Regions from separate parts of the Homo sapiens genome. Here all the other regions are linked to region 3. The links come from fine-mapping of genetic effects on plasma protein levels. A gene starts in region 3. Each other region holds a variant in brackets. All regions are shown on one strand. Distances are between the middles of the regions.

The links. PIP is the posterior inclusion probability: the model's chance that the variant is causal. Protein levels are from antibody-based Olink assays in UK Biobank. Linkage for the fine-mapping came from a reference panel and not from the study's own genotypes, which makes the PIPs less certain.
Region 1: its variant is fine-mapped to the plasma level of the IL12B protein (UK Biobank, PIP above 0.99).
Region 2: its variant is fine-mapped to the plasma level of the IL12B protein (UK Biobank, PIP above 0.99).

What each region holds. Positions count from the first base shown.
Region 1 is chr5:159,340,801-159,350,992 of GRCh38, forward strand. It overlaps IL12B-AS1 (IL12B antisense RNA 1), which reads left to right. Exons shown (of 5, transcript NR_037889.1): 3 at 6,716-6,805. Among named protein-coding and RNA genes, the nearest start is that of IL12B-AS1, 14 kb to the left of the region's middle. The variant G/A (reference allele first, on the strand shown) is at 5,309.
Region 2 is chr5:159,430,715-159,440,906 of GRCh38, forward strand. No RefSeq gene overlaps it. Among named protein-coding and RNA genes, the nearest start is that of LINC01845, 30 kb to the right of the region's middle. RefSeq lists an enhancer at 5,236-5,736 and a silencer at 9,590-9,639. The variant T/C (reference allele first, on the strand shown) is at 4,470.
Region 3 is chr5:159,326,761-159,336,539 of GRCh38, forward strand. IL12B (interleukin 12B) reads right to left here and starts at 3,727. Exons shown (of 8, transcript NM_002187.3): 1 at 3,672-3,727; 2 at 1-22. The coding sequence starts at 22. IL12B-AS1 (IL12B antisense RNA 1) reads left to right here and starts at 4,758. Exons shown (of 5, transcript NR_037889.1): 1 at 4,758-5,280; 2 at 6,022-6,243.

The sequences.
Region 1 (10,192 bases), 14 kb after region 3:
GAGTTTTCTCATCTCGTACTCACAACAAAGCTATGAGGTGGAAATTATTCTGCCCACTTTACTGGTGAGGAGACTGAGGCTTAGAGATGTAAAGCTAACTTTCCATGAAAAATGTAGCTAGTAGATGGAGAATCTGGGATTGAAACACATCACGTGTTTGAGTCCATCAGTACCATCTGTCTTGTAAGACCATCCTATATAAAATTTATAAAGTGACAGCAAATCAGGTTAGCAGAAAAGACATTACCCTTAGCTAGGCCATCTATAGGAAGCCAGTGGGAGAAATGGTTTTCTAAGATGTGGGTATGCATGAAATAGGAAGTGTAGATAGCGCTTGGGGAGGAGAGTGATGTGATTCCAGGGGGTTGTGAAAATGAGGCATCCAGACATGAGGATCAGGTAGGGGAGAGGCTGGGCGAAGGAGACCCAGGAAAGAGAGCAACAGTAACTAAGGTGTGGACAGATGAAGGCTGGTACTCATGCTTCTTCCCACTGCAAGAAGAGGAGCCATGTGTCATTTCCTCTCTGTGACTGTGAGCAGCCCTTGGCCCCTGGAACTCCCCAGGTACAACCGGAACAACATCATGGTGCACTGGGCTTACTTTTAAGCCTAGAACATGAAGAGAGCTGGTTAGAAGGGGACAAGCAAAGGACTGGAAGGATTAGGCACACACATTCCACCATGTGCTTGGTGCCATAGAGCAGTTTGAGTCTAGACAAATTGACAGTCACTGCCTAACATTCTCCATTTCTGTTGTCCAGCTGGATAATCAAAGTTCCATAACAGATTCTTTTTGGTTTTAATCATGAGTTGTGTGGGGGACACCAATGGGGCTAAGAATTAATTGTCCATATATCATTTTTTGAATTGAGCCTTTTATTCTAAAACAAGCAAGAAGCATTGGACCTGTCAGTTTCTGAGGCAGAAACTTCCTCTCAGAATGGTGTGTGGGCATTCATGGGATAGTCCTTGAACACTGTCCTTGTCCTAATAAAAGCAGCTTACTTTTATTTAGAGTGCTTGTTTCTTGACAGATTTTACTTAAGAGCTTTATAGTTAGTCCTTTTAACAACCCTTTTCCAAGCAAAGACATGGCTGGTAGAGGCAGAATGAGTAACTTGCCCAATGTCTGCCAGCAAGGAGGTGGCAGAGCTGGGATTCTTGATCGCAAACACCGCCCTTGACTGTCTCTGCCTGTGGCTAGTGATGCAATTGTCCCACGTGTCTATCTGATGGGCTGTTTGCCAGAAAAGCCTTCTGAAATGCTTTGGGCTGCACAGGGCCCCAGTTAAAATGTGTGTATGATTTAAACTGACACTTGTTAACCTTGCGGTTATTTATTGAGTGACAATTACATATCAGGCACCCAGCTAAATTCTGTGAATGTAGTAAGCAGATCAGACCTGGACTCTGTCCTCATAGAGCTAAATAGATATGTGCAGAGGACAAAATGCTATGAAGGAAATGAATGGGTGGTGAGACAGAGAATCACAGGGGAGGGCTCTCTGATGAGGTGGCATTTAAGTTGGGACCTACAGGTGAACCAGGATGAGAATCAGTAAGAAGCCCCTACAATGGGAGAGGGCTTGGCGGGTTGGAGGAATGGAAAGGAGGTTGGTGTGACTTAAGCGCAGAGGAAAGGGAGAGATGCCCAGGGAGTCTGAGGCAGGTGCTGGCCGAGGCACATGGCTGCACAGGCCCCATGTAGTAGGCACATTTAGCACTGAAAATATGTAAAAGTCTCTGAGATGAAACAACCACGATAACCAAAACCAAGACCCAGGTATGCTTTGTCATAGGATCAGGTACCAATGAAGTTCTTGGGAGCTGTGAAACATGGCTGACTTGACCAGACCAGAAGTTTCCAAATCTTCCTTGGTCGCAGAACGCTTAGTGCTTCAGTAATTTTTTCATGGCATCTGTAGGCCAAAAGAAATACCAAATAGATTCATTGATTAACTAGTTAGGGTCAAATCGCTTAAAAGTCTTTATGTGCTAAAAACTTTGTATTGGCCATTTGAAAAAAAATGATACATTGAAACAAAAAAAATATTTTTTTGTATTCTGAAATCATCACAATTACTTACTCATGGGATGTGTGGCCTGCTGGGCACTGTGCAACTCCTTAAACTTTGGAATCAGAGTGGACACTGCCACCTTCATTTCCTGTTCCACACTGATTTCCTTGTGGCACTTGCTTTTTGTCACAGTAACTGCCAAAAACATGGCTTCCCCAAAAGATGCCATCACTGAAAGGAATATGACGTAATCTAATGTTGAAACCATGAACAACCCTGAGTTTGTGCAGTGTTCAACAGATATGGAGGATCCTGTCTTTCCCTTGGAAAATTTAAAATACCTCCCAACAGTCCTGTGAATTTACTATGCTACCCCAGGGTGACCTGGTAGAGAGTTTGGAACCACAGCTAGCCATAGTACTTTCAAACTACTAAAGTTAGATATCTCTTTGCCACCAAATCCCTCCTCAGGGCCATATGTGACCCTGCATTTTGTGCAGGGATTCCAGGAAGCAAAGTTGTCACTCTTTCTGGAAACTGTATCCTATTTGCCCAACCATCAATAGGGGTACCTCTGGAGTGCGAACCCAGCCTGGCTTATTTGAATAGAGGAAAGGAGGAAAGGGGTGAGTAACATGTACAGATGGTCAGCAGTAGTATGAAAGCATGTGAGGTTGAACCAAGAGGAAATGAGTAGGTGATACACAACCATAATTTTGGGGCCCTTGATGAAGAAATGAGTGCTGAAATTCTGAAGGGTTTGTTATTGTGCAGACCTGCAGTTAAGCTGGCTAAGCTTTAGGTGTTGCCTCTGCAGTCAGGAACATCCTGCCAGAAGGCAATTAAAGAGTGGAAGAGCAGAAATGCAGAGAAGGAATTCAACACCTGCTCCACCAGCACGTTCCTTGGTCGCTCTCGTCTGTTTCCCTAGCTGGATCACATTCTTGGTGAATGAGAGAAAGTATGAGGATTAATGAGCAGACCTGTCTTTGGGATACCCTAGAACCATGATGCAATGCAAATATCACAGTATCTCAAAGGACAGTAGCCAGTAGAGCCAGTTGACTTCAAGTCAGTTTAACTTTCTCTTTCTGCATAAAGTCATGTATGCAAATCATCTAGGATGGCTGAGATGCTGATGAAATGAGTTCCCATGGCAACTGGAAGATTATCCTTACATCATCTTTGTGATGAGCAAAGTTCAGTGAAGACCAGAGGGAAGTAAAATTCTTGCTTGTCACTGAACTTGGACTGTTTACTCAACCTCTATTGCTTGGTTTTCTCATCTATAAGATGAGAATAATACTGAGATGGGATTGTTCCCTTGACCTCCTCATGGGACTTGCAACATTGGTGACTTGTTTACTTGGCCACTGCACTCAAACCCCTTGCATGAGGGGGAGCACACAGGAGAGCAGGAGCAGGAGCTGGGGTGATTGCCTTTGGAAGCCATTAGGAACAAACTGTGTACCAGCCTGTGGCAGTGTCTAGGGGTTGTCCATGACCTCTGGAGCCCAAGGGGGCATGTGTTACAAACAATACTCTTTTAGCATTTGCTGTCCACAGACAGCTAAGTGTTTACCCGCTCAGTGGAGGGTTGGGGTGACAGCCTTTCACACCCTGCCCTCTTGATACCCAGGTTCTTGTCCTATGTCCAGGAAGAATCAGGTCACAGGGACTTGAAGGATGGTGAATGTGGAGACTTTATTGAGTGGTGGAGGTGGCTCTCAGTGGGATGGGGAGCTAGAAAGGGGATGGAGTGGGAAGATACTCTTCCTCTGGAGTTCAGCCATTCCTGGCCAAATTCCTCTCCAACCATAGTCTCCGATGTCCAGCTGCCTCTTCTACTCTTGATGTTCAGACACTTCTTCCCTTCTCTCCTTCTCTGCTGCACCGCTCTGCTCCTCTGCCAGTGGAACTTGGAGTTTTTGTGGGTACAGGGTGGGGAGGGAAGTGTGGCATGCCAGGGTGGTTTTAGAAAAGGCAACATTCGAGCGGGAAAACAGGGATGTGAAGTTCTCATCTAGGGCTGCGGGTCCAGGCTTGAGGGTGGAGTCCTTGCCATGGACCCTGCCCTCTTCTACCCAGTATTTCCCTTCCTCCTGTCCTTATCAGTACAAACCCAGACCTTTAAGTTGTTACAAGAAGTAATGATACTCACTAAGCCAAAACCATAGTGTCAGGTACTATGCTGATGCTTTATATACACTAGCTTATTTTATACCTAAAACAATCTTACAAGGAAGACATATTATAATCCCCATTGATATCTGAGAAAAATGAGGCACAGAGAGAACAAGTAAGTTGATATCAAAAATGGCAGGGCAGGGATAATAAGATACATCTAGTATAAGATTTGGTTGAGATTATGAGTATGAGATCTTAGCCCATTGCCTGCCCACAGCAGTACTCAGCAAATGCTAGGCTATTATTATTACTGTTATTTTTTGTTAATTCCATTACTGTTATTATTTGACCAGGGGAATCATCTTAGGCTTTATGGAGGAGTTGACATTTTCAATCAGCTTTGAGGGTGGGTAGGCTTTGGACAGACAGGGATGGGGCAGAAGAACATTCTGGACTATGGGCACAACAAGAGCTAAGGCTAGGAGGTGGGACTGTGTAACTTTGAGATGGAGAATAGGGAGGAGACCTCAAAGCAGAACCTTAGGCTCTAAGGGAAACAAGACAGAAGGATTCTGCTGACAAGACAGTAAAGTAGCCTGCTCATCTGGTGGTAGGCACTGTGTCAGCGTTCTAGGTTGTAAATGTAGGAAGTAAGCAGATCAGAGGTTTGCTCAACAACCTGCCTAGTGAGCCAAACTGCTTGCTCTTGAGGCCATGTAGTCCTTCTGGGGCAGCTCTTCAAACCCTAGTCCACAGAGGCAGGTACCCAGTTCTTTCAGTGATGCCCCAAGCCAGATAAGAAAATGATGTTATGGAGATCTGGAATCCTCACCCAAAAGTCCAGCTTTCATTCTAAATGCATCCGTCCATCAGGACAGTCTTGTGTGTGTTCAGAGGTGAGGGATGAAAGAGAAACTTCACAGCAGAAGACCCTCTCAAAGTCATGTGCGGATCTGCACTGAGTCTCCTGTTTCTCCCTCTTCCCTAGCTATACCTCTTTTTAAGATCCAAAAGGGCAGGGCTGACTTAAGCCTTCTCTAGGGCCAGATATTCCTAGACGAAAACAAGGGGCTTCTTGAGAGGAAATGAAAGGAGACGGAGATGCGGTTTTGCCTTAAGGTTTTTAATGTGAGCCACTGAGAAGATTCATTTTGAAATAGAA[G/A]GATGTGTCTGACAGTGTGATGTAAATGCAGGCATTTTGGAGTCCCTGCTGGAGAACACACAGAGGTGAGTAGGGGTTCTCCAGTGACCTTGTGGGAGTCTTTGGCTGGGAAGCTAGCTGCTGGAGCTGAAAGGGCACAGGAATAGAAACCACACCACCTGGGGTCTTCTGATCCAGTGTTTTCCAAAGGGCAAGTGCCATGTGAGCTGGTTTTAGACTGCAAAGGAGCAACTGATTCAACAGTAACAAATTACAAATGAAAACTTTTCCCATTTCAAAGTTACTTTTCAGTTCTTCTGATGCTAAGGAGAAAGTGTCGGTTTTAGGCTATTGTCTCTCTTTTTTTTTTTTTTTGAGTCAGAGTCTTGCTCTGTCGCCCAGGCTGGAGTGCAGTGGTGCGATCTCGGCTCACTGCAAGCTCCGGCTCCTGAGTTCACACCATTCTCCTGCCTCAGCCTCCCAAGTAGCTGGGACTACAGGTGCCCGCCACCACGCCCAGCTAATTTTTTGTATTTTTAGTAGCGATGGGGTTTCACCGTGTTAGCCAGGATGGTCTCAATCTCCTGACCTTGTGATCCTCCCGCCTCGGCCTCCCAAAGTGCTGGGATTACAGGCATGAGGCACCGCGCCAGGCCTATTGTCTCTTTAATACCTCTCTATCACTTGTTGATCTCTCTTCTTAAGGAGGGCAAGCACTCTTCAGCCTTAGAGGCATTAGCAGGCAACAGCATCTATTCTAGTGGATCTCATCCTTGGCTGCATGATGCTATTTCCTGGGGAGAGCTTTAACAAATTACTTATGCCTAATTGCTTCCTCCCCAGAGGAATTCCAGTTTAATAGCTCTAAGGTCTGGCTTGGGCATTAGGATTTTTAGAAGCTCTCCAGACAACGGTTTCTAATTAGAATTGTTTTGTATTATATTTATTAACCTTCTATTAATGGCACGTGATACTAGTTTTCTACTGAAGGCATTGAAGTAAAATTTCCTTTCAACATCAGTTGACTTACATAAAAACAGTAAGTGCCTGTTAAAGGAAAATAAAAACTAAAGGCAGGAGGATTACTTGAGGCCAGGAGTTTGAGACCAGTCTGGGCAACGTAGTGAGACCCCGTCTCTTAAAAATAAAAGCCAGGCATAGCGGTACGTACCTGTAGTCCCAGCTGCTGAGGAGGCCGAGGTGGGAGGAGTGGGACGATCACTTGAGACAGGGTGTTTGAGGCTGCAGTGAGCTATGATCATACTACTGCACTGGTGTGACAGAGCAGAAAAAAAGAAGAAGAAAAAGAAAGATAACTAAATAATGCAGGTGGTATTTGCATATGGCAAAAACAAAATATGCATTCAGTGAACTTTGCCAAACTCTCTTCTGGTCCTGGCTTAGCTCTCCCATTCCTGTCTTCTTTAGGCCCAGTTTCCTCAACAATGAAATGGGACTAATTATCCCAGGTCACACTTCTCTCTGGGCTTACCCTGGGAATCAGATGATTGAGCTTTGGTAAGTATTATTTGATAAACAAGTATGAGGAAGGAAATAAAAGGGAGATCAGTGCTGCAGAGATGGCTAATTGGCAGATTTACACAGAACTGGATTTTTTGCGTATGTTAAACCAGGCTATTTGGAACTTCTGAGTTCCAAGTACCATCTTCTCTCCCTCTGCATCAGAATGATCCACTGGTCTCCATTAAAGGTATCATGATTGCCAATAATGATTTAGTTCTCCAGTGGCAATAAACTAAAGAACACTGGAAGTCCCACCAAGACTCCCAAGGATAGCGTGTTAGCATACAAGCTGAATAGCCTGTGTTGCAGTCCCTGCTAGTCAGGGTCTTCTGGATAATGCATTGCCTGTGTGAGGACTGGCCTGGTCCTCTGCAGGCTGAATTCTGCATTTAGCAGCTCAGTGTCCCTTCCACGGGCCCCAGTTTCTTCATCAGGAAGGTGAGGGGCTTGGACTAGTGTAGGATCAGGTATAAATGCAAATACCTCCAATACCAAGGAAGTAACTCAGGTGTGAGGCTCTGCTAAGGGAACAGGGAGTGGTCAGGCTTACAGCAAAGTAGAGAGCGCAGTCCCACAATAAAGATACTCAGATTCAAGTTTTGAAAACCAGGGGGTTGTTAAACAACAGTTTGGCAAGGTGACAGTTAGTGATTACTGGATGTGATGGTTTCTAAGATTCATTTCTAAAAATAATTTTATAATAGTAAAATAAATCCAAGGTGTCTACTGGGGTTTTTTTATATCACTGCTGTACTCAATGGTACCCAGAGGCTTCTCTGATAATAAGAACTAACACTTAGAATAAAAGCTAACATCCAAATGCTAAGTTCTTTAAAACCATTTAATCCTCACCATAACTGTGTGAAGCCAGTACTATTATTACAGCCTTATAACATATAAGGAAGTTAGGGTTCAGAGTGTTTTTTTACACACATTTTACAAATGTGTGTAAAATCTCTAGAGCAGCGTTATCCAATAGAAATATAAAATGAGCCATATATGTAATTTTGAATTTTTTTAGTAGCCATATTAAAAAATAAAAAGAAACATGACATTAATTTTAATTATATATTTTATGTAAACCAATATATATAAAATATTATCATCTTAATATGTAATCAGTGTAAAAATTAATGAGATGCCTTGTGTATTTTTTGCATTGTCTTTAAAATTTAGAGTTTCTTCTTTTTTTTAAACAAATAGCCTTATTGAGATATAATTCACATACTATACAGTTTGCCCATTTAAAGTATACAATTCAATGGCTTTTAATATATTTACATATGTGTAACAATTTTAAATTAAAATTGTGTAAAATTTAATATATTCACATGGTTACACACAAATGGTTACACATATGTTAATATACTAAATTTTACACAATTTTATATTTATTATTTATTTGATATATAAATATTATTTATTTGAGGCAGGGTCTTGCTCTGTTGGCCAGGCTGGAGTGCAGCATTGCAATCATAACTCACTGAAGCCTAGACCTCCTGGCTTCAAGCAATCCTCCTGCCTCAGCCTCTTGAGTAGATGGGACTGCAGGCATCTACCACCACACTCGGTATTAACTTTTTAATTTTTTGTAGAGACAGGGTCTCACTCTGTTGCCCAGGCTGGTCTTAAATTCCTGGGCTCAAGTGATCCTCCTGCCTCAGCCTCCCAAAATGTTGGGATTATAGGTGTGAGCCACCGCAATTTTAGAAAGTTTTCATCCCCTTGAGATGAAATCTCCTATCTTTTGGCTAGCACTCACCTACCACCCTGACCCCATCCTCAGCCATAAACTACCCCTAATCTAATTTAAATCTCTATAGACGTCCCTATTCTTTTTCATGTGACTATTCTGTTATCCCAGCACCATTTGTTGGAAAGACCATTTTCCCCCACTGAAGGGTCTTGGTACCCTTGCCAAAATCAGTTGACCATAGACATATGGGTTTATTTCTGTGCTCTCAATGTTCTGTTCCATTGATCTGTATGCCTATCCTTATGCCAGTACCATACTGTCTTGACTATTGTTGTTTTGTAGTTAAGTTTTGAAATAGAGAAGTTTGAGTCCTCATACTTTATTCTTCTTTTTAAGGATTATTATGGCTATTCCAGATCTCTTTTAATTCCATATAAGTTTCTAAATCAACTTGTTAATTTGTACAAAGAAGTCAGTTTGGATTCTGATAGGGAATGTGTTGAATTTACACATCAGTTTGGGGAGTATAACAATGTTAAGGATTGGAAAACCCGTGATTATAGGGTTTTCTCCATTTATTTAGACCTTCTTTATTTTCTCAACAATGTTTTGCAGTTCTCAGCATATAACTTTCATTTCTTTTGTTCAATTTATTCCTAAGTATTTAATACTTTTTGGTGCTATTGCAGATGAATTTTCCTATTAATTTTCATATTGGTCATTGCAATTGTATAAAAATACAATTATTTTTGTATATTGATCTTGTTTCATGCAATCTTGCTGTGATGGTTAATTTTTTGTGTCAACTTCACTGGGACATGAGGTGCCCACATATTTAGTCAAACATTATTCTATGTGCTTCTGGGAGGATGTTTTGGATTAGTTTGACATTTAAATTGATAGAAATTGATAGACTGAGTAAAGTAGATTTCCCTTCGTAATGTAGCTTAGCCTCATTTAATCAGTTAAAAGTCTGAATAGAAAAAAAGGCTGACCCTGCCCACAAATAAAAAGGAATTTCTTCTGCCTGACTACCTCTGAGCTGCAACATCTGTTTTTTCTTGCCTTTGAACTTGAATTGAAACATTAGCTCTTTCTGAGTCTTGAGTCTGCTGGCTTTCAAACTAGAACTACAACATTAGCTTTCCTGAATGCAAATCAAAACCACAATGAGATGCCATCTCACACCAGTTAGAATGGCGATCATTAAAAAGTCAGCAAACAACAGGTGCTAGAGAGGATGTGGAGAAATAGGAACACTTTTACACTGTTGGTGGGACTGTAAACTAGTTCAACCATTGTGGAAGACAGTGTGGCGATTCCTCAAGGATCTAGAACTAGAAATACTATTTGTCCCAGCCAACCCATTACTGGGTATATACCCAAAGAATTATAAATCATGCTACTATAAAGACACATGCACATGTATGTTTATTGTGGCACTATTCACAATAGCAAAGACTTGGAACCAACCCAAATGTCCATCAATGATAGACTGGATTAAGAAAATGTGGCACATATATGCCATGGAATACTATGCAGCCATAAAAAAGGATGAGTTCATGTCCTTTGTAAGGACATGGATGAAGCTGGAAACCATCATTCTGAGCAAACTATCACAAGGACAGAAAACCAAACACTGCATGTTGTCACTCATAGGTGGGAATTGAACAATGAGAACACTT
Region 2 (10,192 bases), 100 kb after region 3:
CCAGAGTGGTATTGCAGGGTTACTGGGTGGCTGCATGTTTAGCTTTGGTGGGTAGGGCAGCTCTATTTTTGAACAGATGTTTCATAGAGTAGGAATCCTCATGTAAGATTTTGCCTGGAGAAAGGGTGTGATTGCTTACATTTTTCTTTACATGGAAAAAGTTTCAATTCCTGTAGTGCAATCTTCTGCATTTACAGATGGTGAAACTGACACTCAGAAAGTGATTTGCTCAGACTCAAACTGCGGTAAAGCCACAGCCAGATCACTAGACTGAACATTTTGTATTGACTTTCAAACTCTGTGAAACAGATCCTAAATATCACTCAAACTGGTTGCTGGTCAGATGTGGACAGGAACCCATAATTAGAGTCAGAAGCCTTGGGTTCAGTCTCAAAACTCTCACTAACAAATGTGTGAGTCAGGGTGAGGCACTGCTGTGGACCTCCATCTCCCTAACAGGGAAATGGATGTATTTGCTTCACAGCGTTGCTGGATGGAAGGAGGTAATGATGGGGAGACATTTTATAGCTGGGAAGCTCTTAGCAAATTGTTATTATCATTATCAAAATGTATTCTAAGGGGATGCTTGGGCAAGCATGCTGTTTTCTTGTGGTATGAATGTTTATTCACTATTTTCTGTTTTATATTTTAGCCTGAGTTAATAGTTTTTAATGAACATTTCTTCCCCCTCATTAAAGAGCTAGTATGGCAGTTAGTATTTTCCGGAGATAGCCACACCAAGTATAGCCCATCCTCCATGCTGCTCTTACACTGGGGACATTTTTATAATGAGACACACCTGCATTGAAGCGGGGGTCTGTGTTTCCTCCCCTTGAACCTGGGCAGGCTTTTGTAACTGCCTTGACTCACTGAAAGTGCAGAAATGGCAGTGCGCAAGGAGGAATGCAGAGTTAGAAAGGAAAAGTCTAGATTTCGGGGTGTTTCCTGCAGAGAACAGAAACCCTCCCTGGGAGGAGACACTGCTGTGGCTTTTACTTTTCTGGTTTTACACTGTGGTCCTATTCACTTTTCAGATTTCTTCATTAAAACCTTCCCCCAAAGAGGAAAGCCTATGTCTAGGAACCACCCTGACAAGTTAAAGCTGAGGTGAGAACTGAGTGCTCCATAGCTTCCAATTCAGGCAGAGTTTTAGTCATTTTGGGGGAGCCTGTTGACTCTGGGAGAAAGGCCTAGAGCTCAGATTATCCTGGGGTTGTGGGGGCTGGGAACAGGAGCTTTGAGTGACAGTATACAGGGGAATAGTGACAGCTCCCCTTTGCCTGAGGGGCAGATGGACTCCTAGCACCCAGAACCCTAGACGCAGAATGGCGCCCATGGGGGTGAGTGGTCGAGAGGCACACAGAGAGAGCTGGATTTCTGCCCCTTGACTTTCCCCTCCCTGAGAGCTCCAGGTTTCCAAGAAAAAAGGTCCTCACCACAGTTCTAAAAATAATAACTATCTTGGCTGGGCACAGCGGTTCACACCTGTAATGCCAGCACTTTGGGAGGCTGAGGTGGGAGGTTTGCTTGAGCCCAGGAGTTGGAGACCAGCCTGGGAAACATAGTGAGATCCTGTCTCTACAAAAAATACAGAAAACTTAGCCAAGCGTGGTGGCTCCTACCTGTAGTCCCAGCTACTCAGAAGGCTGAGGCAGGATGATTGCTTGAGCCCAGGAGTTGAAGGTTACAGTGAGCTATGACCACACAACTGCACTTCAGCCTGGGCAACAGAGAGAGACCATGTCTCAAACACATACATTCAACACATACATACATGCCTTATATGTGCAAATCACTTTACATACTGGGAGGCAGTTTCATACATGTGACTTTTTTTTATTTTTCCAATGACCCTGTAAATAAACCAGAGAATTGTATCATCGTCATCATCATCTTAATGTTATGTTTAAATAAACTGAGAGGGTGAATAAAGGCTTCACCCAAGGTCACACAGTAGCAGGTGGAAATGCCAGTGGGAAAACCAGGTATTCTGGCTTCGTGAGTTTTCTTTCATTGCATTGCATACTTGATCCGTGGAGGGGTGGGAGTTTGGGGCACACAGCAGATCAATGGCAGAGCTAACTTGGGGGAGAGGCACCTTTCACCCCTCAGATTGCCCCCAGAAGGTAGCTGTCTCTTTGGCTGGCAGCATGGTGTTGATTCTATGTGAGAATAAAATGTCCTGGGCTGGCCACCTCTGCCCCACCTTTGTCCCCCTACCTCCACCACCCCATGACTCCCCAGCCCCTATCAGAAAAGAACCATTCTCAGTCATTTACACCCTCATTACCATTTAAGGGCTTATGCTTTCTCTTTTAGCAATATTTGCTTTTAAATCTTATCGCTTATTATGATTTTTGTCTCCTGGAAAACATGGTTTCTGGCATCAGTAAGCTGATAGAAAAGCATTATCTCAGGGGCAGGGTGGGAGTGAGTGAGAGAGATTTTATAGACACCCTCCTCGTGTGTCAGCAGATCCTAGCTACTTGAATCACAGCAAGTCACTTATCAAATATCTGAGTGCTGGATGCCCGGGACAGAGTGATGAATAGAAAGTGGTCCATGCAGGTGCTGGGATACAGCATGAAGAGAGTGCAGTTCATGGCAGGGGCCACAGACTGGTGGGCGAGACAGGCAAGGAAGCAAGTAATTATGATCTGCTAAGTGCTACTATAGCTGTAAGTGTTCAGGGTGCCTGGGAGCATGAAGTAACTGGGGTCGGAGTGGGGTGGAGGTGATGTTGTTTGGCGGAATCTGGAAAGGTAATAGAACTTCCCTTTATTGAATATCTTAGTCCAGATACTCTAGACAAGCAAATCTGAGGGATCGTGTGCTCAAACCAGGGCAGGAGTGTGACCTTAGGGAAGAAGGCATGAGGGAAAGGGCGTGCGGTGGTGAAGGAGGAGAGTAACGTGAAGGAATGTGTTACGGTTGTGACCACCGTTCTGCAGCAGCCCTGTAGGCTACTCCATCTTGCTGGACAGTCCCAAGAGGTCTTACGGACCTCTGCCGCCTGAGCAGGGCTCTACAGGAGGGCAAACACCTCTTCTGCTTTTTTCCCATTTTGAGTCCCCCAGTAGCTAAGCTTGCTCCATGGGGAGTCACCTTTTGTGCATTTCTAGTTTGAGTCACATGCCCTGCAGCTGGCAAGTCTGGGGGTGATGGGAACTGCCAGAGATGGCTGGTGTCAGCCATAAGGGCAAGCAGAGATCTAGCAGCCAAGATGCCAGCAGAGACTATAAAAGGAGTCTCTTTGAGATGTCGGAGCATTTGCACACAGTGGATTGTCAAATCCTCACAATGGCCCTGTGTTGTTCATTGAATTGTGTACCCCAAAAAGATAGGTTGAAGTCCTAACCCCTGGTACCTGTGAATGTGACCCCATTTAGAAATAGGGTCTTTGCAGATGTAATCAAGATGTGTTTAAGATGAGGTCATGCTGGAGTAGGGCAGGCCCTTAATCTGATATGAATGTTATCCTTTAGGAAGAGAAGAGATACAGAGGCAGGTGCACATAGAGAGGAGAATGCCACATGAGGACACAGATGCACGGGTGAATGCTCTGTGATGATGGAGACAGAGACTGCAGGGGCACATCTACAAGCCAAGGAATACCAAGGACTTCTGGCAACACCAGAAGCTAAGAGAACGGTGTGAAATGGGTTCTCTCTGCGAGCCTCTAGAGAGAGCATGGCCCTGCCAACACCTTGATTTTGGACTTTGGTTTTAGAAGTGTCAGAGAATACATTTCTGTTATTTTAAGCACCCCCGCCCTTTATGGTACTTTGTAACGGCAGCCCCAGGAAATCAAATGAAACAAGGATCTTGCATTTTCACAGCTAATAATTAGAGGAGCTGGGGTCTGAAGCCAGGTTTGCCTGTTGCTTAGATTTGATTTGAAAAATGGTGAAGGCTTTGCAGGGGTGGGATGGGGGAGACCAAAACATGTTCATGTCTGTGGGTAAATTGTAGGTGTATATATTTTTGAGGTACATGAGATATTTTGATACAGGCGTGCAATGCATAACAATCACACCAGGGTAAATGGGGTATCCATCACCTCAAACATTTATCCTTTGTGTTGCAAGTAATCCAATTCTATTCTTTTAGTTATTTAAAAATGAACAATTATTATTATTATTTTACTATAGTCGCTGTTGTGCTAGCAAACACTAGGGCTTATTTATTCTTTCTATTTTTTTGTACCCATTAACTATCCCCACTGACTACCCTTCCCAGCCTCTGGTAACCATCCTTCTACCTCTATCTCCATGAGTTCAATTGTTTTCATTCTTAGCTCCCACAGATAAGTGAGAACATGTGATGTTTGTCTTTCTGTATCTGGCTTGTTTCACTTAACATAATGACCTCTGGTTCCGTCCATGTTGTTGGAAATGACAGGATCTCATTCTCTTTTATGGCTGAATAGCTCTCTATTGTGTGTATGTACCACATTTTCTTTATCCATT[T/C]GTCTGTTAATGGACACTTAGTTTGCTTCTAAGTCTTGGCTATTATGCATAGTGCTGCAATAAGCATAGAAGTGAAGATAACTCTTCAATATACTGATTAAAATAAAAAATTAAAAAACAAGGTGGTGCTCCCTCACACACACAAGAGAGCAGCTCTGTCCAATACAGAGGCCTTGTGGCTACTGAGTGCCTGAACTGTGGCCAGTCTACACTGAAAGGGGCTGTGTGTGAAAAATACGTACTGGGTTTAGAAGACCTAGCACAGAAAAGAATGTAAAGTATCCAATTACTAATTTTTAATATTGATGACATATCAGAATGATTATATTTTGGATATAGTGGGCTAAATAAAATATATCATTAAGCTTCCTTGCACCTGTTAAAAAAAGCAACCACAAGAAAATTATAGTCACATATGTGCTTGTGGGATTTCTGTTGAACAGCACTGCTCTGGAATGTGAGTTCTTTGAAGGCAGAGACCATCTCTGTACTGCTGACTGTGGTCCAAGAGCCAGAGCAGGGCCTGACATACAAGAGTTTCTCAACACATAATTGTGGATAATTAAATGAATGAATAAACGAATGACCAAATCCAATCCAACTCTGAATCTGCTCGTCTGGTCCCTGTGAACATAGGATTGGATGTAATTTTCACCTTGCCTTGTCTCTCTGGGCAGTTCTTCAATGGCTGAGGCTTACAGAGAGAATGCATGCCGCACAGTGCTAGCTAATGGAGAGGCTGGATGTGTGGTGGAATTTGGAGAATAAAAATGGCCAGAGTATTTCCAACCACAATGGCAGTGACCACTTACTGGATACAAATTCTGTGCCTGGCATCATTCTAGGCACATTATATGGAGTGACTCATTTTAATTCTAACAACCTATGACATCAGTCCCACCATCAACTCTATTTGACAGACAGAGGAAATTAAAGCTCAGACAGATAAAATTATGCCCCCAGGGTTACAGAGCTGTTTTTTTTCCGAGTTCTGTCTGACATGACACTTGCACTCTTCACCACCATCACAGAACACAGAGAAGAGGGGACTGGGGGTCCTGCCAACACAGGGTGACACTGAACCAGGTCTGTTCAATTCTGAGGCCCCAGCTCCTGAAAGCAGGTGGCCCCAGCCCTCCAGGATTTGGAAGACTCATTGTCTGTGTCTGGTACCGTGGAGCATTTGGCCACATATCGTCTGTGCATCTAGACAAGTCCTGGCATGCATCCAGCCATATCTTGCCCATGCATCTTCTTCACCAGATGGCGGGACCACCCTCTGTACCTATGATGTGGCAATGACTGCACAGGTGAGTGAGCATTCCCTGTGTTGGAGGAGGGGCCCTGTGGGCGGTGGTTGAATCATGGGGGTGTTCCTTCATGAATGGTTTAGCACCATCTCCCTTGGTACTGTCATCGCGATAGTGAGTGAGTTCTTGTGAGATCTGGTTGTTCGAAAGTGTGTAGCACCTCCTCCTTCTCTCTTGCTCCCACTCCCACCATGTGAGATGTCTCACTCCCCCTTTGCCTTCCACCATGATTAGAAGCTTCCTGAGACCTCCCCAGAAGGAGAAGGAACTATGCTTCCTGTACAGCCTGCAGAACCATGAGCCAATTAAATCTCTTTTCTTTATAAATTACCCAGTCTTAGGTATTTCTTTACAGCCTCGGGAGAATGGACTAATACAATGGGCAATCCAGACTGAGCAAACCAAAGGGGAAAAAGCACAAAGATATAAACCTATGGTTTACATTTGGGGAAGTAAGTAGTCCAGAGTGGCAGTGGTATGTGTGTTTGAGGTGGGTGGACAGAGGGAACATCTTATGGAGAGAAAGCATCAGGGAAGGGGGCTGGAGGCAGATTGTATGAAAATCTGAAGGCCAGGTAAGGGGCTTGGACTCTCTCTGGGGTCCCTGAGGAGCAGGGATAGGATGGGCATTGCTGAATGCTGCCAAGTCTGTTTTGGCTGTTTAGTGGAGAACCGATTAGAGGCAGGAGGCCAGATGCTGTTTGAAGCCAGTTCATTCTGTGTGCTCATGGTAAGTGGGCATTAAGAGTAGATGGCACAGGAACTGTGTCCATCTGCATGTCTTCCCTTACAGCTCTATGGAAAGACTTGTCCCATGTAGGTCCCAGCAGCCTCATTTTCAGGAGTTAGTTTGCTAACAGGTGCAAAGCTTTCTGGGAATCAAGCAAAATTACAATGAGTCTTCATATAATGGAGCACGTAATGGAATTATCTTCCACCTGATCTTGGGACTTCCTTTCCACCCAAGCTCTTTGTACAGCAGGTCATCTGTGGGCCCTAGGAAGCAGGCAGAAATAACAGCAAGCAGGCACCTGCTAAGTGTCAGCCACTGTTCAAGGCTCTTGACATGTGTTAACAACTTTAGTTCCCACAATGTATCATGGAGACAGGAGCAATTGTTATCCCCATTTTACAGATTAGACAATCAGATAGGTCAAGTGACTCGTTGAAGGTCACACAGCCAGTGAGTGGAAGAGCTGGATTCAAACTCCAGAGACCACAGTCTTAACTGCTATCTTATATTGCCTCTCCCTTTTTAGATACGATACTTATTATTTCTACAATGATCACAGCTCCTTATGAAATCGGTAATACCATTACTTTTCAGTTTATAGATGAACAAACCAAGGTTCAAAGAGGATTCATAGTTGTCACAGGTCACACAGCCAGAAAGTGGCTGAGCTAGAACTTGAACCCAGGTCTGTCTGACTTTGTAGCCTCATCCCTGTTTTCCAGGAAGGGGTGAGGAAAGAGGAGAGAAGGTGAATGCAGGGGCCTGCCTTGTGATTCCTCACCAGAGGGCAGGCATCCTCCAGCCTATGATGTTTGGGTCTCATGTCTCCATAAGAATGAGATTTTTTGTTTTCATAATTTGAAAAGTCCACAGTAGGGCACAAACATCGTGACTCTACCCTTGGCCACATCCACCTCTTCTCTTGGCCAGGCCTTTGGCTCTTTCAAGTTGTGACAGCAAAGCCCTGTCTCAGAGCTGGAGCTTGTAAATTTCAGGGCTCCCATCTGGGTCTGGAGGATAGTGGTTTCAGGGAGTGGTTTCTTTATGTGCAAAGAAAACTGCTATTCAAATCCCATCTCACTTCACATTTCAAAACTCTGCTCATAGGCCAGTGTGTGTGCACATCCGTGATTGTCAACAGGCATCCAGGGATGGGGCGGGAAGTGATGCTCCATGGCCACCATAGGTCAGATAGGAACTGGGAGGCTGACATATAATGAATTAGGCGTTGCTTCATTTTCTGATCAGCATCACCTTCAGCTGATGCTCATCTAGCAAGGCTGCCTTTGAGGAAATCTGAGCAGTGTGTAGTAATAACATATTTGAGCACTCATTACAAGCCAGGAACTACATTAAGCATGATATACACACCACCTCACTTAGTGCTCAAACAATGCTATCACAGATTTCATTACCCCTGGTTGAGAGATGGGGAAACCAAGTGGCAAAGTGGGTTGCCCCATGGCTGAGGCAAGATTCGGACCCAGGTCAGACTCTTTAAGTGTACAAATTGAACACCTGTATCTCTGACTACTGTGTGAAAAATAGAATGTAGGAGAGCAAAGACGGATGCAGAGAGACCAGTTAGGAGGCAACTGAAGTAGTCCAGGTAAGACAAAACAGTTGCTTGGACTAAGATGGTACTATGGAAGTAGTAAGAAGTGGGTGAATTCAGAATATAGTTGAAAGAAAGGCAAAACAACAGGGCTTGTCAATGGAGTGGAGGTGAGCCATATGGGAAAGAGATGAATCAAGGATAAGACCTAGACTTTTGGCCTCAGCAACAAAGTACAAGGAGGTGCCGTTTAGTGAGATGGAGTTGTTAAGGGCAGGAGAGAGTTTGGCGGTGGGTGTCCAGAGTTAACTTGGTGGGTCAATTAGACAACCATGTGGAGACATGACCAGGGGAGAGGTGGGGGAAGGAGGTGTGGATTTGTCACCAGTTTATGGATCCAATTTAAAGTCTTGGGGTGGGTGGATGAGATCATCAAATGGAGGATTATAAATAGAAAAATAGCCAAGGGCAGAACTTTGTAGAGCCTAACAATTAAAGGTCAAGTTGAGGAGGGGTAGTGGGCAGAGGAGACTGAGAAGGAATAGCAGCAGGTAGGAGGACAACCAGGTACTGATCAAAGAGGAACCATGTTTTAAGAAGGAGGGGTGATCATCTGCTCACTGGCACAGAAGGTCAAGTAAGACAAGGAGACAGTTGGCCAGTGGCTTTGGCAAAGTATAGCCCATTGTTGACTTTGACATTTCAGGAGGAATGAATGGTTTAGACCTGTCATGTTGGCTGTCCTTGAATTTCTGGGCAAGAATTCCCAAGATTATGGCGCCTAGAGATGGCAGAGCTGACATTCAGACAGTCCCAGGTTTGAACCTCAGATCTGCCAGTAGCTGTGTGACCTTGGGCAGTTACTATCCCTTCTTGAACTTCATTTTCCTCATCTATGCAATGGGAGTGATAATGCTTACAACTTGAGGCAAGGATTGAATGAAATAATAAGTAAAAACATAAAGCAGCAAATACTTAGGAGGTATTAGATATTTTTATTCTTTTTATTTTAAAAATAAAGACAGGATCTCACTCTATCACCCAGGCCGGAGTGCAGTGATATGATCATAGTTCACTGCAGCCTCGACCTCCTGGGCTCAAGTGATCCTCCTGCCTCAGCCACCTGAGTAGCTGGAACTACAGGCATGCACCACCATGCCTGGAGAATTTTTTATTTTTAGTAGAGATGGGGGTCTCACTATGTTGCCCAGGCTGGTCTTGATCTCCTGACCTCAAGTGATCCTCCCGCCTTGGCCTACCAAAGTGCTGAGATTACAGGCATGAGTTACTGTGCCTGGCTTATTATTTTAATTTTTATATATTTTTAAAACCATTGTTAGCACAAGAGTGATACCTATATTTCTGAGAAAAACCAATGACCTAATTTTGAGCAGAGCTTTATTAATGCCAGGGAATCTGACGGAAAATTCTTTGAGGGTTGAGACATTCTTTTCCCTGTGCCACCCCAAATGTCCAGCACCTAAGTAGATTTAATCCAATCAGGTCAATCCCTATTCTGAGCAGTTTTATATTGCTCCCTAGGAAGAGACCTAGATCCCTACCTGGGCTCACAAGACTGGGTAGTCTGGTTCCACCTACCTGTGCTGCCTGGTCACACACCATACTCCCCCGGCGACTCTCAGTTCCCCAACGACGGCACTGTGCTTGGTCCATGCGCTATGGGGCGCTGCACATTCTGTTGCCTCCCCTACACACTTCCTTCCCTGTCCTCTTCCCTGTGTTCATTTCTTCTTGTCTCCTGGGGCAGTGGTTACTTCCCCAGGAAGCCCTTCCTGAACTTCTGGACCAGGTCGATTCCTTTCTTAGAGGCTACCAGAGCCCCTGTTCCTCTCCTTCCTGGCACTTAACATATTTCTGGTCATACATTCTTGGTGCACATCTTAGTTTAACACCTGACTTTATCACTAGACTCTAAGCACATGGGGGCAGGAGCAGACCTGTTTTGCTCACCAGTGTGTGCCTTGTATTGAGCCCAGGGCCTGGTACACAGTAGGAGGGCAACACATAATTGTGGACTGAGTGAGTGAGTGGGTATTTAATGCAATGAATACATGAGCAGATGGCTTTCCCTTTGTAGAGCAAAGCAGGTGTCTCCAAAAGGTTG
Region 3 (9,779 bases):
TGACCAACTGCTGGTGACACATCTATAAGAAGGGAGAGAAGCAGGGGGAAGAGAAGGAGGAAAAGAGAAGGAAGAGGAAGAAAAAAGAGAAGAAAGAATGTCAATAATTCTTGTTACCTTTGTGAACCATATACACATTCTAGCTACTTTTTTTTTAAATAAAATCTTGATTCTCCCCTTTCTTCTCCATACTGTCAAGCAAATACTAAGTAAATTACAGGAGTTCTATGGCAGTCTGTGGGGAAGAACATCTCTAAATAGAGAACCATAGGGTATTTGGGGCTCTGGAGCTGAAAGAGACCTAAGGCAAGCCATCTGATACAATCCTCTTATTTTTAAGATGAGAAACTTAAAGCTTAGAGAAGGAATGTGACTTTCTGGATCAACATCTAGCAGTTGTTTATTTAGTGCTTACTACATAAAGAGCACTGGGCTAGAAGCAGTTGAGAGAGAAAAAAAGGGCTTACCTGGATCCCGCTTCCTAGGAGCAAATACTTTTACTCAATAAATATTTATTAAGTCAGTGTGTTAAATGCCTCCCCGCCAGCTGGGGAGATGAGCCATACATTTGTATCACTGCAGCACAAAGCAGTGTGTGCTGGAGCACCCAGAACTGAAGGACTTGGGTTAGGGACAGGAACGGTAATACAGAGGCGAACTTTCAGGTTCTGGCAACGACCTGGTCACCAGCCCTTGCTGTAGGGGTTTAGCTTCTCTTGTTTTCCAAGTTCAAAGACTACTCTCTCCCATATAGAGAACCTAGTGGTTCTAAAATTTGAGTGACTGTCAGGATAACCTGGAAGCACTGCTACAACAGACGGCTGAGTCCCACCCCCAGAGTGTCTGATTCAGCAGGCATGAGGGCCTGAGAATATGCATTTCTAGAAAGTTTCCAGGGGAAGCAGATGCTGCTGGCGCTAAGACCACACCTTGAGAACCACTGGTTTAACCCATGTTCAGGGTCCAGAACCCCTGAAAATCAAAGTGTTCATTGGGAAAAGACCACAACATATTGATATATCCACCATGAAATAGTAAAATGCATAATTTTATGTTAAATAAGCCACCATCTGATATAGAAACCAGTCTAGGTTAGTATCCAGGGTTTATGAAAATCTTCCGATTGCAAAAATTACATGCCACTTACGAATGAGGTAGGGATGATTATTGAAACATTCTGAAACAACTCCATTCACCTTGCAGAGCACCCATGGTCTGGAGGAAAGTGGTTCTGAAACCACTGTTTTAAACTATATGAAGGGCAATGCTCAACTGTTTCAGTCAAATACCTTAAAAATGAGCATTCCTGGGTTGGGTGACGGAATATTGACAAATTACAGCTTTGTCAGAACTGCTACTAACTCTAGGCGGACCTTGCTATGTACTTTATTCCCTTATAAAGTTTGTGAGTGGCAGAGACAGGCCTAGAAGTCAAGCCTTCTTGGACACTGCTCAGTGCTGTCACCACAGCATGGAGTTTTAGGGGCATGGCTATCACTTCAGTCTAGGTTATGACTGTAGCAAAGTACTAGCTGGCACAGGGCACCGGTTAGTACATTCACAGGCTTGAAGTTAAACAGACACAGGCTTGAATTTTGGTCCCACCGCTCATTTGCTGTTGAGCAGTGGGAGCAACTTGTTGGCCAAGTTACTCGCTGAGCCTCAGTCTCTTTGTCTATAAAATGGACCTAATACTTATCTCAAAGGCTTGTTGGGAAAGGCAATGAGATAACATATTATAGAAGGCAACCAATAACATATTAACTTGAACCTAGAGGAAGAGGTAAGGGAACAATTCGGTATCTGTGTTTTATATATCATGGATAGTCAAGAAAGTCATTCTAGGCAGTAGGGAAATGTGCACAGAGGTACTGCAATTACATGCGCCTGTAAAACCCAGAGGCTGGCACACTGGAAGGGAAATAGTGGAGATTCCTGGCATCTCCTGGCCACTTACGCTGAGGTATTCCCACTAGCTGTGTGCCCAGCACTTCCTCTGCATGCCTCAGATGCATTTGACAATCTCAGGTGAACTGCACTTCAGGGTCAAGGGAACCCCGGCCATGGTTCTAAGAAGCAACTCCCATTTTAGTATCACCTACATTTGAAACCACAGAGCACTGTCCAGGAGAGGTGATGGTGGTGGGTCTCCTCCTTTGGCTCTCTGGCCCATCAGCTGATACTAGGGAGCGCTATCCCTCAGCCCACATTTCTCAGCATGGTAAGTCTGAGAGTCTTGATGATTAAAACACATTTTTGTGTGTGCAATTTCATAGGTTTTCTAAACTCTTGAAACCCTTGCATGAAGGACAAAGGGACCCCACGTTACACACTCCTACTTCCTGGAGTATGCTAAGGGCTTCCCAACACTGGTGCCAACATCAGCATGCCAATGACGCTTGGGTGGGCATCTCTTTTTTAAGTTTTGTTTGTTACCTTTAATTAGAAAAGGGAGTTATTATTAAAGAATAAAAAGATATAGTCACAGATGGCATGGGTGGCACATGCAAAGATCCCTAGTTTGAGGGCCAGGCAGACTTCTAGAACTGTGTGACTCTGGGTGAGTCACTTGGCCCCTTTAAGCCCCACACTCCTGATCTATAAAATGGGCATGCTACTGTGGTAAGGAGTTAGTGACATAATTCACGTGAAGTGTCATGGTGCCTAGATGAAGTCAGGACCCACTATTTGCTCCCCTCCTTCCACAGCATTTACTACAATGGCAACAATACAGTCTCTTCTTTACTGTTTGTCTTCTCTGCCACACTGAGTGAACTCTCTTATGCCATGGATCATGTCTATCTTGTTTTGCACTTTACCCCCAGAGTCCAGCACAGAGGGATTCCATGACTTATTAGTAGCATGAAGGAATGTACGGAAATCATACAATTTCAGATTCCAGTAAACTAAACTCTAAGAGGTTACCCACATTCCATCTAGTATCTTGCAATTCCTTGTTTGAAAAAGTGGGTCATCACCTGGGGTTTAGTAATCCCTTTGTTAAAATGACATTGTTGTTGCACACAATTTTACCTGGGCAAGTAAAAAAACCTTTTTTTCCCCCTTCTCACAGATTTAAAAACTCTTTAGGAAGCAATAATAGCTTTTCATTTTTTAACTGGGGCCAAAGTTAGTTAATCCACAAGAATGGGGATCCCAGCTGTCATTTTGGTTGATATCACAACTGACGACCAAGACCATCACAAATATGGGAGCAAGTCTGATTTGTAACATTATTATAATTATGAATCCAATTACTTTAAGGAATGCACGAAAGGCTTTTTAAAAATTTCAATAGTAAGGCAGGCACCACTCACTTTAGCTCTATACAATCCTTTAACTGATGGGCATTAACATTTAGGAATATACTTTTATACATCAATACACACCACTTCAAAATAAGATAAAACAAACATTTCCACAAACTATGCATACACACAGATCTTGCTATACAGTTATTATTAGGTGGCTTTTAAAATGGACACTGTACATCGGTCCCTAGAGTACTAAGTTTTCACTAATGTTCCAGCAGATGACTCACCAGGGATGCTTCCAGGAATCCACCAACTCCCTCCTGCCAGCTGCTGGGGTAGCACACTAACGGTTTCTACACCTGGACAGCTGCAGGCCCACAGGGAGGGGAGGGAGGTAGGGGCTTGGGAAGTGCTTACCTTGCTCTGGGCAGGACGGAGAGTCCAATGGCCCTGAAACAGATGTTGTTTCTTCTGCTGCTGTTGCTGGTACTGGAACTTATATACTCTACTCCTTTCTGATGGAAACTTAAACTAGAAACTGACTTGTTGCAACATTGAAAACAACTCTCAAAACCTTCTGGGGGAATTTCAAGAAGTTCCTTTTTTGTTTGTCTCTCTCTGTGTGTGTATCAATAACGAGGAGGGAACATAGACATCAAAATCCCAGGTAATGAACTAAGAGGAAATGACTTTTGGGTGGGGAATAAGGAAGGAGATGGAGATGCTAATTTCTCTGGGTTTACATCATGGCCAAGGTGCTTGGAGACAGCACTAGGCAGATTCCCTGGGTTCCACAGATCGAGGAAGAAGGAAGGCCAAGGGGCGGTCAGACGGGAGGCTGAGTTCATGTCGGGATGGAACAACTGTATGCCCAAGGGCTTAAAAACAAAATCCTGGTTCTTCCCAAGTCAGAGAGGATGAGATGAAGGGCAAAGGGTTTAGTACATCTGGGGCGCCTTCCTCCACATTAGTCCTTTAATTTCAGAAACATACTATTTACCACCCATCTTGGCTCCATGCACCTCTCCCCACATTCCCCGAGTGGGAACACACGCGTGCACACACACACCCATGCACATTTCATACAGACACAGACCTGGGGAGATGATAAAACTGCGTGTACCACTAATAAGACTCAAATATGTGCACATCCTGTGCTCATAGGTACTCGCTCATAGGGGCGGATGGGAGCAGAAAGTGAAATACCCTCAGGGAGGCATACAGACAACCACACTCAAGGCACCCCCCCTTGGGCACCCAGACTACATCCTCATTTCATTTGCACACAAATCTATGGCCCTAGGGGCTCCGTGCAGATGCACAGGAATAGCGGAATAAAGATATCTCTCGTGGTGGAATTTCAAGTTGCTAAGAGGTATGCAAAGGTGTACACCGGTGTGGACCCCCCCATCCCCCGCCCAGTCTGCACGTGAACAGGAACATGTACCTGCACGTATACCAGGTACACGCAGACAGATGCGGGCCATCCCCAGAGCCGCCGACAGAGGTCGCTGCGAGACGGTACCCGCGCCCCACAGTCCACCCGCTCCTCGGAGTCCCCCCGCGCCCCGGAGTCCACCCGCGCCCCGGAGTCCACCCGCGCAGGTCCACTTCTCCATCCCTGCTCTCGACCTCCGCCCCTGCGGTGGGGGAAGTTCCTGGGGCGGTGGCTGGGACCAGGCCGGGTTTTAGGCGGGCGCAGATTTCCGGGCTAACTTTCCTCGCCGTCTCAGCGCGGGAAGGGGGAAATGGGAAACCCGGGCCAGAGCAGCGGAGCTTCCCAGCCGCACACTTCCTCCCTCCAGCCGTTTGTCTCGGCAGGGGAGGGCCCAGGCAGCCAAGCCGGCAGGCCCACTGGTTATCCGACCTTGTGCTCTGGCCGTGGGTGGAGACCTTACATCCAGCTCAGAGCGCCTCCTCCCATCCCCTGTGTCCTCTAGGCCTCCCCAGACTTTGCCTTTTAGCCTTCCAGTGAAACAAGTTCTGTATCCAAGATATACAATTAAGTGGACAAAGCAGATTGCAGGTATGTTTTTTCGTATGATACCATTTGTGGGGTGTGTGTGCGTATGTGTGTAAGTGCACCTGCACTTTTCACAACTGGTATCTCTGAGGCATATGTAACAACTGGGGGAGGGGCTTTTTGTAAACATGTATTAATTTCCTCCGATCCATCACTAAAGTGTACTGAACAGAAATTGACGTGAAGTAGTTTCACTAATTTATTTACAGTGGCTGCACCACCACAGATGAGTCCTTGTGCCCCCCCATAAATAAATACATGCATAAAATAAGACAAGTAAGGTTCAAAATGACACAAATATTTTATTCATGTGTTCGTAAAAGCACCTTGAAAATTAAAAAAAAAAAACTGTAACGTAAAGTCTCAGTAAAAATCCAGCGCCAGTTATGCAAAAGAAGCTTCGAAGTATGCCCTCATCCTCCCTTTTCCGCTCAGATTGCAGCCCGAGGGCTAGTCCTATATGAAAGGGCCCCCAGTGTTCACCTCCACCAGGGACAAGTAATAGGGTTTTAAGAGCATGGGCTCTGGAGTTAGAGAGCTGGATACCCGCACCTGCAAGTTACTTACCTTCGTTAAGCCTCAGTTCCTCACATCTGTAAAATCGGGTTAATAATAGTACCTGATCTCAGGACTGGTGTGAAGATTAATGAGATATGATGGGATGCAGTTAAAGCAGCATCCTGGCTAAACGTTTAATGAATGGCTGCTTGCACTTATTTATTTTTTTATCCTGTCGTGTCCCAGAAAGTCTTTTCGTAGCTCACAAGGGGACATCAAAGATGACAAAGAGGAGTGGAAGAAGACAGAGAGAATCAATGTGAGGAGCCTGGAACAGGGCTCTGAATTGTCTTCCCACAGTGAAATCACTTGTCTATTGCTGAGCCAAGAATTTGACTCTGAGCATCTAGGATGAGAAAGAAGAACTGGCACCTACGCCATCTCTGCCCCTCGGGACTGACTATTTTGGTAAGTTCAGTTCACCCATGGAGGAAGTGGTTCTCGTACTTTATCTGCATGTAACAACAAAATTCAGGTTCTTGGGGCTGATGCTTGGAGATTGTGATTCAGATCTGGGATGGGGCTCAGGAACCTGCATTTTAACAATGGAGGTTCTAATGTGGTCATTGGCAGGTTGTTCTAATGTGGGGGCCACATTAGAGCCTCTCTCGGAGACAGGCTGTACATGGCCAGCCAGCATTCTGGTAATATGAGCCAAATGCCCATTGACCTAATTTTGGAGAAGAGGTTTATCAACATGTCCCACTTCACAATCCAGACCCTGATCCCAGGCAAAATAAACTGATACCTATAAGCTTTCTATTGCTTACCCTATGGGCGAGGAAGGTCTGCTGACAAACAGAGGGCGTGCTGAGCTGCAAGGTTAATGTGTCTGATGATTAAGCTGTGACATGGAGGCAACCCCCTAAAAACCAAAAATAACTTAAAGAATTTTTTTGGCCACAAAAACTTATTTTCTCCTAGAAGAATGCTTTGATCATCTAGTACACATTTCAAATAAAGGAGAAGCCATGTGTACTTATAAAAATTAAAATCTTAGAAAATTACATAAGCAATACATGCATGCATGCTATTGTAAAAACTTCAAACAATACAAATATACATAGAATACAATGTTGAGGCCCTGATTCCTGTGGCTTCCAGAGGTTACCAGTGCCAGCATTCCTGCAGAGCTTCTGAATGCTTCTCTATGTATTTATATCTATCTGGCTATATAAATGGAATCATACTATACATATTGTTCTGCAAGTTGCTCTTTTCTTGCAACAGTCTATTTTGTATTCAGTCACTTGCAGTGACTTGCTAGAGGTCACTTGAACAGATTTCACGTCTGCATCAATTAGGTTGCCCTGGGCTTAGTTTTCTAAGGAGCTCTGCAGTTCCAGGCATCAATCCACTAAGGACTGATAACACCTGGGATAAGAAAAGACTATCTTGTCCTGTTGATGTCTCTTAGGAGCAAATAATTTGCCCTACAAGCTCCATAGCCTTTTCATGAAGTCTCACTTATCACCTGTATACCACTCCCTGACAAGGAGAATGGGCTTATTACAAGGAAAGTGATAGACAAGGCAGGTTTGCCCTACTAGATGGAAAGTGGTAGGCCATTGAGAGTCATGAAACCACCCTCACAGGGTTGACAAGAATTGCATGCTGGGTTCTGGACAGGAATATAGTTATAATTAAGCATTGATTAGGTTGCACGTTGGCCCACTTCCTTGTTGCTCAAAGTCACGTAGCACTAGATCCTGACCATTTGCATCTGCATTATTCCTGTAGATAGGATTTCTGACATTAGGGTCATAAGATTGTGTAGGAATTGATTTGTATCCCTATTGTTCCTTTAGATGGGATCTCTGACATTACAATCAGAACGCTTTTGTTTAAGAATCACTTAAGTTGTTTTTCAGGTCCCCAATTCTACCATATTTCAGTTTGAAAACCCCCACAAAGAAAGGGGATCAGGTTGAAAATACAGCTTCACCCTGTCCCATGACTTCACCATGCACTCTTCAACCAGTCAACCATCTCCAACACATCAGCCCACTCCCAAACTCTTAAAAACCCTAGCCCCAAATGCCACAAGGAGATAGATTTAAGGTTTCTTCCTGTCTCCTCATTTGGTGACCCTACGATTAAACCTCTTTCTCTGCTGCAACCTGGCCTCTCGGCGTATTGACTTGCTGTGTGCAATGGGCAATGAACCTATTATGGATACAGTCACATGTGTCTGTTACATGAGTCCAAGTGATTTGTGCGGCCAGTGAAGTGCAGAAATAGGGCAATTGTGTGGATAATGAAAACTAAGGCTTCTTCCCCCAAATGGTCAGTTGCTTTTGAAGGGATACTTCTAGCCTAGGAGTATGGGAAGTAGCTTCTACCTCCTGCCTCATACATACATGCTCTTACCAAAAGAAGAGTGGAAGTGTCACGGCAGATAGCTAGTCAGACATGAGCAGGGCAGAAGAGGGTTCCCCCGCCACTCCCCGCCCACCACCACTAGGAATGTCAGGCAACCATCAGGTGAGGGTCAGATGGTTATTAAACTGTTTCTCTAAAATAATAATTGGTCACAGCTGGTACCAGGGAAAGGCAGTCTCCCAATAGATAGAACACCTGAAGCTGGTGATTAGCAGCTTCCGGATAAGATCTTAGGAGCTGGGCGAATGGGCTTAAGCATGAGCACTAGGAGGGAAAATGGTCGAATTTAACTGGTGTATGAGCTTCTTCTAAGAACACTCAACTAGTAAGGGAAGAATGCCTCAAGTGAACATGCGTACAATTTCAGTAAACATACTGTGTATGTGGCCCCTCCCAAGTGCTGGCAGGCCACCCCAAGAGAAGAATCAGGGGAGAAGGGAGGCAACCCCCCAGAAGCATGCCAGCATATGCAACCCCAAATCAAAGGTTAAACCATACACTTGAATCTCTCAAGTCACCCTCCCTCTTCCAAGTGTACTTCCTTTTGTTCCTGCTCTAAAACTTTCTCTTTTTTTTTAACTTTTTTTTTGAGATGGAATCGTGCTCTGTCTCCCAGGCTGGAGTGCAGTGGCGCAATCTCGGCTCACTGCAACCTCCACCTCCTGGGTTCAAGCCATTCTCGTGCCTCAGCCTCCTGAGTAGCTGAGATTACAGCTACCACGCCCGGCTAATTTTTGTATTTTTAGTAGAGATGGGGTCTCACCAGGTTGGCCAGGATGTTCTCGAACTCCTGACCTCAAGTGATTCACCCGCCTCGGCCTCCCAAAGTGCTGGGATTACAGGCATGAGCCACTGTGTCTGGCCTCCTGCTCTAAAACTTTTTAAATAAACTTTCCCTCCTGCTCTAAAACTTGCCTGGGTCTCTCACTCTGTCTTAAGCCCTTTGGTCAAATTCTTTCTTCTGAGTAATAGGGACAGGAGACAGAGAAATTCTAGGCAGAAAAGAGTGGGGGTTTTTGGCAAAGACCCACCCTCAAGCCTGGTGCTGTGGCCCAAAGTGAGAACATGTAGTCCTGTTTTCCCACTCCAATGTTGCCGTTTCCCAAACCACCCATGGCCCACCCTGCCCCCACATTCTGCACCCATAAAAACCCCAGGCTCCACTGGCAGAGAGCAGAGAAGGGGAGGAGAGAAGAAGCAGCTGAATGCTGGAGAGAAGCAGTTTGACTTCAGAGGGATGACTTGACAGCAGGACTTCAGGGGAAGAATACCTTCCCGGTCCCTCCCCTTTCCACCTCCCCTTCCTGTGGAGAGCCACTTCCACTGGCAATAAAATCCTCCACATTCACCGCCCTTCAATTCGTTCATGCAACCTGATTTTTCCTGGACACCAAACGAGATCTCAGGTGCCATGGGTGAGGATGCTAAAGGCTGTCACACTGACCCTCTGCCCTTGCAAAAAGGCAGAGGGTTCACTGAGTTGTTAAACACTTAATCCAACCATGGATAGCAAAGCTAAAAAAGTGCACTGTAACATATGTCCTGTGGGGCTGCAGGGGTCA